Linked DNA regions of Homo sapiens: all the other regions are linked to region 1. Evidence: fine-mapped expression QTL. A gene starts in region 1. Each other region holds a variant in brackets. All regions are shown on one strand. Distances are from middle to middle.

Region 1 (2,755 bases):
CAGGCATTTGAAACTATTGGAGAACAAAGCCAGACTCAAGCAAGTATGGGATTGTGTGCAGCAGATTTTAAGTGCACAGTTCTGGTGGATAGGAGAGTCGGTGTGGACTGCAGTGGTCAAGTTAAGTCTGGAGCAGAGGAGTTGCTGGGTGGATATGCTAATCTCAAGCATAAGGCAGGGGAGTTAAGGATGGGGCGCCCAGGGTCCTTTGTGCGGAGCAGGGCAGCTTGGCTACGGTCATCTTTATTTCCTCGAAGGCCAGACAATCTGCGGGGAACGTGGGGAGGGCTCATCTGTTTAGAAGCTGTGCTTTAGGCAAGCTTGAGAAAACATCTGTCCATCCTTGTCCAAAGTGGGTAGCTAAGGACCCCTGGCAGAGAATCACCCATCTTGGGAGCTCTGAGCACCAAGGAGGAAAGCCCTCCGAATTTGAGCGGTGGTTCTCAATGGGAAAGAGAAAAGGAGTTTGCCCATAGCCAAGGGGAGAAGCTGGAGCAGGGTTAACCTGCGGCTTGGGGTTCAGTTGAGCAGGCTGGGCGCCCGGCATGGGAGGTAGAGGTAGGGAAGCTGGGCCTTCCCTTCGTCTTTTCTGCGACCAGGGACGGGTGGCACCTCGTGGTCCGCAGGAATACCTGTGTGGAGGGCTGGGGTTTGGCTCCTGCCGGCTCCTGGAGTATGCTGGGGGTCCACCCCCCGCCTCCCTGCGTCCCCTTCTCCAGCCTCGCCTCCCCAATGCGCTTCCCGCCTCTGCATCGCCGCCGGCCCCTTCACGCCTCTACCTTGGGCGGGTTTGGGGTAAGGGCCGCGCAGACCCTAAGGGAAGGCCCGAGGTCGCCGGAGCTCCTCCTCTCGCGGCTGAGTGAGGGTCTGGGAGGCCAGATGAAGGGAGCTGCTCGGCTGAGCTGCGGACCAGCGCGAGAGCAGCGGGCAGTGGCGGACCAGCGCCAGGGCAGGGCAGGGGTGGACAGAGGGCTCTCCCCACCCTTCCCTCCTCCAGTGAAAGTACCAGAAGAGATGGCGGCCGCTCCGCCGAGTGTCATTACCGCGGAAGCAGCAGAAGCCGGCGGCAGGAGCGGGCCCGAGAGCCCGCGGCCAGTGGCCTGCGCACCCCGCGCCCAGCGCCCCCGCCGCGGGTCATCAGTGTCAGCGTTGAGGGGTCCCGGGGAGCGGTTGCAGGGCGGCGGCGGCGGCCGGGTCATCAGAAGCACAGTGGAGCCGCCCCCTGCTTTGGGAGGAGCAAAAGAGCCTCTCGCTTGCCTCCCGCTCGAGCTCCTTCTCCTCTTCCTTTTCCTAGCGCTTCTCTCCCTCCCTCGGCGGGGTCCGCAGAGACAGCTGGGCAGGCGGAGGCTGCGCGCCTCTCGCACCTCCACGCCCACCCTCCCGCCGCCCCCCCCTCGGCCTGAAAGATCTGCGTCCACACCACCCTGCACCCAGGGCCCGTCAGGTTTTGCAGAAGTTTGCTGAGGGTCCTCACAGGGGGTCTCCCAGGGGAAGGGGTGGAGGGCTGGAGGGGCCGCGGTGGGAAGAGGTGGCAGACGCCGCCTGGCAACGGAGACCCTACCCTTTCTAGAAATTCAGAACGCAGAGAAACCAGTGCCCAGCCCTGCTCTTCAGCAAACGGTGTATTTCAGCCCGAGTTTCCTTCCGGGGGTTTGGCTGTGAGTGTGTGTGACCTCCCAGATGGCGGCACGGTTCAGATCCCATGCTCCCTCTGTTTCACAGCTGCCAGAGACAGACTCAGGGATTCCGGGCTTTGGAAGAAGGTCAGACCATGACCTCCTATCTCCTGTTCTCTTCTCCCCTCACTCATCACCCGCTGGCCACCCCACTCTCTGCACCCCACCATGCATGCTTACTGTAGACCTAATCACTAATTAGCCCAAGGGTTGACTGAGCGTGCTGGTGAGAGTAACAGGAGGCAGGTGGATGGGGAGGTGTGATGCTGCGCGCATAGTAGGTGCTGAAAACATGCAAGGGCACGATGCACATAAGCTAGACAGAGCCCTTGGTCCTGCTGGGTGCTGGGGGAGTGAGATTCAGAGCAGCAGACCATCAGCCGGGTAGACAGAGGTCATGGCCCCAGCAGCTCAGCCCCATTAGCTAGGCTGGTGGGAGGCAGCCAGTGCTTTTGAGGGCTCAGACAATCCCTGCGATTCAAGGGCTGCTCTTTGGAGCTGCTGCCAAACTAATCTCAGGCCTGCAGTCTTGGGCCTTTCCTTTAGTCTCAGCCCACTTGCTGACTCTGCCCTTCAGAGGAGGCCCACTGCCTCCTCCTGGGGCTGAGGATTAACCCCTAAAAACTGAGTTTTGTTTGCAGAGCTATCTCCAAAGCTGAGGGAGCCTCTGGAGTCTCCTGTTCTTGCTGCTTGTTGACTAGGGGGATCCTTGAGGTCAGATGGTGCTGGCAGCAGCTCAGCCCCTAGCCCCAGACACATATTCAGTCTGCAAATACAGCAGGAAATCTTTCTCACCTGGCCCAGCCATCAGTCCTGGCTTGCCCAGCCCTGCAGGGCACTGCCTAGTAGGCCTTTTCCTACAAGCTCAGCCCCACCCAGCTACGGAGCCTGCCCTAATTGGGCTAGGAGGGCACTAGCACCTCCCTTTTACTGGTAGGGGAAGTGCTGTACTCAGATGTCTGCCCACAGATTCAGGATCCAGTATGTTTGTGGCAAACACCCTTCCCTTGATCACCACTAAAGTGGTTCCATTCCTAGTGCTGGGACTCTGCCTTAGTTTCCTAATTAGCACTACAGCC
Region 2 (2,755 bases), 43 kb before region 1:
GTCACCTGTCCCTAAGTCTCCTTATGTCTGCTGAGGAATTGAGAACTCCTTGAGGGTGTGGGGAGGGCTGGGGCCCTCTAGATATACCCTTCAGGGCAGGACATACAGATGGCATTTTATGTGAACTTATGGCCATGGTCATGTTCTGTACGTGAGGCACATGGAAAAATAGGTGCTAGTTACTTGCCTGGCTAAGGTTGGAAGAGTTATTCTTTTGTGTCCATGGCTAAAAGACCTTCTTCTCTTTTAAAGGTGCAAAGATCGGCACCATGGGCTGCTAGGGGAAAGCAAGCATTTTAGGAGAGAATGGGGAGCAGTGAGCAGGAGCCAAGGCCCCCCTTTGCCAGCCCCCATCCCACCCCTCCTCTTCACTGAAGTCTTCATTTCTCTGTTCTAAATTGCACACATTGATCTGCTGTGTACGATGTTGCAAAGCAAGTTGGCAGGAGTACTGGAGTGTATCAGGTCTACTAGGGAATAAATATACTTGGGTTTTTAGTTTAAATGAGTGGAGAGTTGGGGAGTGGCTTGACAGCCATGGGGAGCCCAAGCGTTGGTTTCCCATCAAACAAACCCCTTTGTAGGTTGGAGCTGTCAGTCAATGCCAGCTCCTGGGTCCCTGCCCCTGGGGACAGGCATCCCCGCCCATGCTGCTGGCCTGCCACTTCGGAGAAGAGGCGAGGGTGGCTAGGTTGCGGGGAGGAGAGTCTTGAACACCAGTCTACCCTCTGCCCATTCAAGGCCTTGTCACTAAGGTAGGAGCCTTTCTAAGGGGAAGGAGAGAGGCCAGGTCCTCTGGGGACAGACCCTGGCCCGAGGCTCTGGGCTTTTCACAGCTGAGTGACCTGGATACAGCCTGTATCCGATGCTTCCTTTTCTGATATTAATATCTTGATTAATTCCAGACCAATTGTTCTTTTTTAAAAAAATTTCCTAGCCTTTGGAAACCACCTACTCTTCTCTGAGAATGACTTTGATTGAAGTTTGAAGTTTCAAGGTTCAGCTGTTTTCAAGTTAGTCGTTATTAGAAAATGTAGCAATTTCCCCCTAGTAAAGAAAGAAAAGGTCCTTCCTCCCTCCGGTCTTTCCCTCCTCCCCTCCCCCATCCCCGTCTCCCCGTCTCCTGGTGTGTCGTAACTTTAAAAAG[G/A]CCTGCAAGATATAGTTATTTATTCTTCTCCATCCTTCCCTCAACTCGATTTTGGGCTGAGGCCAAAACTTGGGGGAAACAAAGAAGCAGCCATCCGAACAGTCTCCTTCAAAGCTCAGTGTTTGCGCTCGATCATGCTGCCTTCCTGATGCTGTAGTCTGAGGGTCGGCGGGAGTAGGGGATGATGAGATGGGGGGGCACGGGGCATGCTCAGCACCCGCCAGTGCATGGGCCGTCCTCAGCCCGTGCCGGCACTGAGTGGTTATGAAAGACCCTCTTGTTCTGGGAGGCAGTCAGTCCGGAGGGAGCCTCCTCGGAAGGTAATTGCCTACTCCCAGGGTTGGCCTTGCTGAAATTTATAGCTCCGCTCAATAAAGCCATTGTGCGGCTCCTTAGGAAGCCATGGGGGTGGATTATTGCTTGGGAGCCAGGAGACATGGAACCCATGCAGGGCCGGGGTCCCCTGCTGGGGCACGTACAGGCTGAGAGGTTGGTGTCCCCACCCCTCCCTCATCCTCCAGGCTGTACCTCTATTCAGAAGGAGGCTGCCGGTACCTTAGTGCCCTCTGGAACGCTGAGCGGCTTGGCCCCGGATCTTGCTCCTGCTCCAGATGAGATGGGGAGGCCCTGGGAGGGAGGTCTTGCTTGGAAAGGATGGACGTAAGGGGCTGGTTCCCAAAAGAGAGCAGGAGCTCTTTCTGCCAGACCAGCTGTACTTCATTAATGAGTCAAGCCAGAGGTCTAACCAATCCGTTGCTACTGGGACTTTCGTTTTTCTCCCCTGGTTTATTTTATTGCTATTCTGAGAGGTAAACATACACATACACCTCAACAACTCCAAGGCATAAAAAAAAAAAAAAAAAAAAAAAAAAGATTGGTTTCAGAAAGCTGGGGAGGTCAGAGCAAATGCCCAAAGCCTAACCTGGAATTTCCCTGGGGGGGCGGATTAAAAGCAGTTGAGCCCCAAGCAGGGATCACCCTGGGTCACCTGACTGACCCCTCGCCTTCAGCCCCCCTCAACTCGGCTGCAGTCTTCTTAGGAGAGCGGACCTGAGTTCAGGAGGCTATGCCTGGAACAAGCAGCTGAGAGGCAGAGCAGGCCTGTGCTACGAGAGGCTGGATGATGGGCCCAGGACAGCCCAAGGATTGAATGCAGAGGCAATGGGAAGAGGGGCAGGTAGAGAGGACCTTGGTGACTCGCAGCAGCGGAAATTCAAGTTTAGGTGGAGGGTGGGATGAAGGACACAGTCCCAGCTCCATGCATTGGCCAGGCAGGGTTGTGAGGTCTCTGCTCAAAGGGGTCCTTGGGATGGGTGTGGGAAGAAGCCTGCAGGTGGGCCCAACCAGTTCAGAGACACTCTGGGAGGCCCAGGCCTGGCAGGAACTCAACCCTTCTTAGGTCTTGCCATTATCAGCACTTATTTGTCCCTTGCCTCAACGAGGCTCAAATTAATCACTCCTGCCTCAAAATTAAAAAGGAAAAACTATAAACAGTCCCACTGATTCATGAGTTCTTTTCAGAGCGGCTGGGCTGCAGCAGCTGCCCAAGGGGAAGTCGCAAGGCATCCCAGCTGGGAGTTCAGGCAGAAGTGGCCTGTGCGTGTAAAC
Region 3 (2,755 bases), 51 kb before region 1:
CTGTCTACATAAATAATCACATTACAATGGTACTTCAGTGCATAGAAAAAAATCATTCAAACAGAATCAATTCATTGATACTGATATTGCCAGTGATGTGTTTTTAATACTAGAAATGACACATGTTCCCCAACACATGTACTATAGCATAGCAATAACATTTTATGGGATGTGATGGTTAAAGTGAAATGTGGTTCTATCAAAACAATAAAGCTGTGTTGAATACAAAAATAGTTTACACCGCTTTCAATTTTTTTTTTTTTTTTTTTTGAGACAGTCTCGCTCTGTCACCCAGGCTGGTGTGCAGTGGCACGATCTCAGCTCACTGCAAGCTCCGCCTCCTGGGTTCACGCCATTCTTCTGCCTCAGCCTCCCGAGTAGCTGGGACTACAGGCACCCGCCACCACGCCCAGCTAATTTTTTTTGTATTTTTTAGTAGAGACGGGGTTTCACCGTGTTAGCCAGGATGGTATCTATCTCCTGACCTTGTGATCCTCCCGCCTCCACCTCCCAAAGTGCTGGGATTACAGGCGTGAGCCACCGTGCCCGGCCACTGCTTTCAATTTTTAATTTAAATTAAATAAAATTAAAATTTCACTTTCTCAGTAGTGCTAGGCACATTTCAAGTGCTCAGTAGCCGCCTGTGGCTTGTGGCTACTATGTCAGACGGTGCAGGTTGAGCATCTACCCAAAATTCATCATGATGGAAATGCACTTTCTGTGTCCTGAACAAAGAGAAGAGAAGTCAGACTGGAGGAGAGGGTCTGTGCAGAGGCGAGGTGGAGAAAGAGGCTGGGATGGTGTGAGGGGCTCATAGGAGAGGGAAAGCACTGTTGATTTTCGAAACGGAAAACCGTATGACGAGAATGGCGCTTTGAGAAGATTCGTCTGGATGCATCGAGCAAAGTGGGTGGTAGGGACACAGATTAGAAGCAGGAAGACCAAATGCATGGGGATGGGAGATGATGAGGCCCTGAACAACAGTGAGGGTGGCCAGAAAATGAAAAAAAAAGAAGTACCTGAGAAAGATGATGAAGAGTTACTATGACGAGTCAGTGAATGAATAAGGGGAACAAGAAATGGGGAAGAGGTGAAGATGACCCTGAGGTTTTAAGCCTCAGACAACGGAAAATGGTAACACCACTGATAGAAACAGGGAAGTCACGGGCAGACATGCTGGGGCTGGGCGGGGTGGGGTGGGGGCGGGGGAGGAGATGTAGGATCAGTTTTGTTTTGAACAGGCTGATTTTGTGGTAATCTCTTCCACGGTTTCGCCTC[AT/A]TTTTTTTTTTTCTCTCCTTCCTGACTTTTCGTCCTCTCTCTTTCTCGCCCCCTCCTCCCCTCTTTCCTCTTTTCATTTTCCCCTTTCTTTCCTGCCCCCTTCTTCTCTTGATTGATCACTTACTTATCATGCACTAGAGACAAATAAGTTTAATGGGCATTTCCCAGGCCTGAGGAAGAACCATTGAGAGGGGTCGGGTGCACGTCTTTGTCAAAGACAACAAAATAAATAAAACGTCCCTTTTTGCTGTTCCTGGCGTAACTGTTGGAATCTGGCCTGGTATGGGGAGTGGAGGTGGCAGATGAAAGGAGAACAAAAACAGTTCATGAGTATTGACTGCATGTGTCAGGCACGGTTCTAAACATTTGTGACCAGCATCTTACTCAAGGGCATTAATTCCCATTTAGCAGGTGAGGAAAGTAAGGCAGGGGCGTGATGAAGTGCCTCACCTAAGGGAACACAGCTGCTAGGTAGTGGGGCGGGATTTTACTTGCCCAGCGTTTCTGAGTATCCGCCCTGAGCTAGGTAAAAGTGGCGGTCACCTTCCCTTCTTGAGGGGTACCTCACTTCTCCAGATCTTTCTGAAAGGCAGGCTCTTCGAAGCCCCTGGGAGGGTTTTCCTTCCACAGGTGGGCTTAGTGACCCAGCAGGGCCTGGAGCTTATGTGGGAAGCAAAAGACCTCTTTCCTCCTCCCAGTAGAAGGGAAGGCAAAATAGGAAACACACTCCTCGAGTATCTTTCCTCATTGTTAATCAGGTGACTGCTCCCAGGGATCTGTTTGCTGTAAATGCTGTGTGTTGATGGTGTTGTTCTAATATAGTCACCCACGTGCAAGTACATCCCAGTAAAAAAAAAAAAAAAAAAAAAAAAAAGGCCCTTAAGTGAAATAGGAGATGGGGGGAGGCGATGGAGGGAAGAGGAGATGGGAAATATTGTACTGCTCCTGTACAACAGCTCAAGGGATTTACTCTAGGCTGTCAGCGCCAAGTGAATATTGCTTATTCATGTGCAATCTAATCTTCCCCTCTGCCCAGAGGCTGAGGGCAGCAGGGGTGACCTGGTTGCAGAGGGACAAGGAGAAGATGGGGTCGGAGGGGGGTGGGCTTTCCTATGAGTGCGTGCTCAGGAGGGCTAGTGTTGGAAGAAATTGTTACTTGAATGGCTAGGATGGGTGCAGGGGGCAATGGTGGGGAGGGGGTACATAGGGGATGAAGATGGACTGGTGATCAGACACAGGACCCCTTGGTGGGCTGAGGAAGTGGCGAGGGTTGTGTGGCTCAAACATCTGGGGGATGGGAATTCCAGGAACCCCTCCAGCGTGCTCCCTTGGGAGGATGGTTGAGCCGCAGATTGATGCACACGCCCAGGCAGAGAATGTCTTAATAACCCACTCGGTGGGTGATGGATTATCAGAGGAGGAGCGGCGGAGCTCCGGCTTGGCCACCCCGAAGCTCCGACTCGATAACGTGATAAT

Which allele goes with the higher level. Positions count from the first base shown, and alleles are read on the strand shown. Sizes are in standard deviations (SD) of each study's normalised expression. Not every link is listed here.
For the expression in macrophages of the gene that starts at base 1,214 in region 1, AT is the low allele of the variant in region 3 and A is the other (large effect, 0.85 SD a copy in Alasoo 2018).

The links. PIP is the estimated chance that this variant, and not a neighbour inherited with it, causes the effect.
Region 2: its variant is the best candidate, but not a certain one, in a credible set for the expression of LINC00900 in monocytes (Quach 2016, PIP 0.81).
Region 3: its variant is the best candidate, but not a certain one, in a credible set for the expression of LINC00900 in macrophages (Alasoo 2018, PIP 0.84).

The regions. Positions count from the first base shown.
Region 1 is chr11:115,758,987-115,761,741 of GRCh38, forward strand. LINC00900 (long intergenic non-protein coding RNA 900) reads right to left here and starts at 1,214. Exons shown (of 3, transcript NR_034148.1): 1 at 1,044-1,214. All of the region lies in intron 2 of LINC02698 (long intergenic non-protein coding RNA 2698), which reads left to right. RefSeq lists an enhancer at 274-808.
Region 2 is chr11:115,715,603-115,718,357 of GRCh38, forward strand. All of the region lies in intron 2 of LINC02698 (long intergenic non-protein coding RNA 2698), which reads left to right. Among named protein-coding and RNA genes, the nearest start is that of LINC00900, 43 kb to the right of the region's middle. The variant G/A (reference allele first, on the strand shown) is at 1,148.
Region 3 is chr11:115,708,385-115,711,139 of GRCh38, forward strand. The region is part of intron 2 of LINC02698 (long intergenic non-protein coding RNA 2698); the gene reads left to right. Among named protein-coding and RNA genes, the nearest start is that of LINC02698, 50 kb to the left of the region's middle. The variant AT/A (reference allele first, on the strand shown) is at 1,279.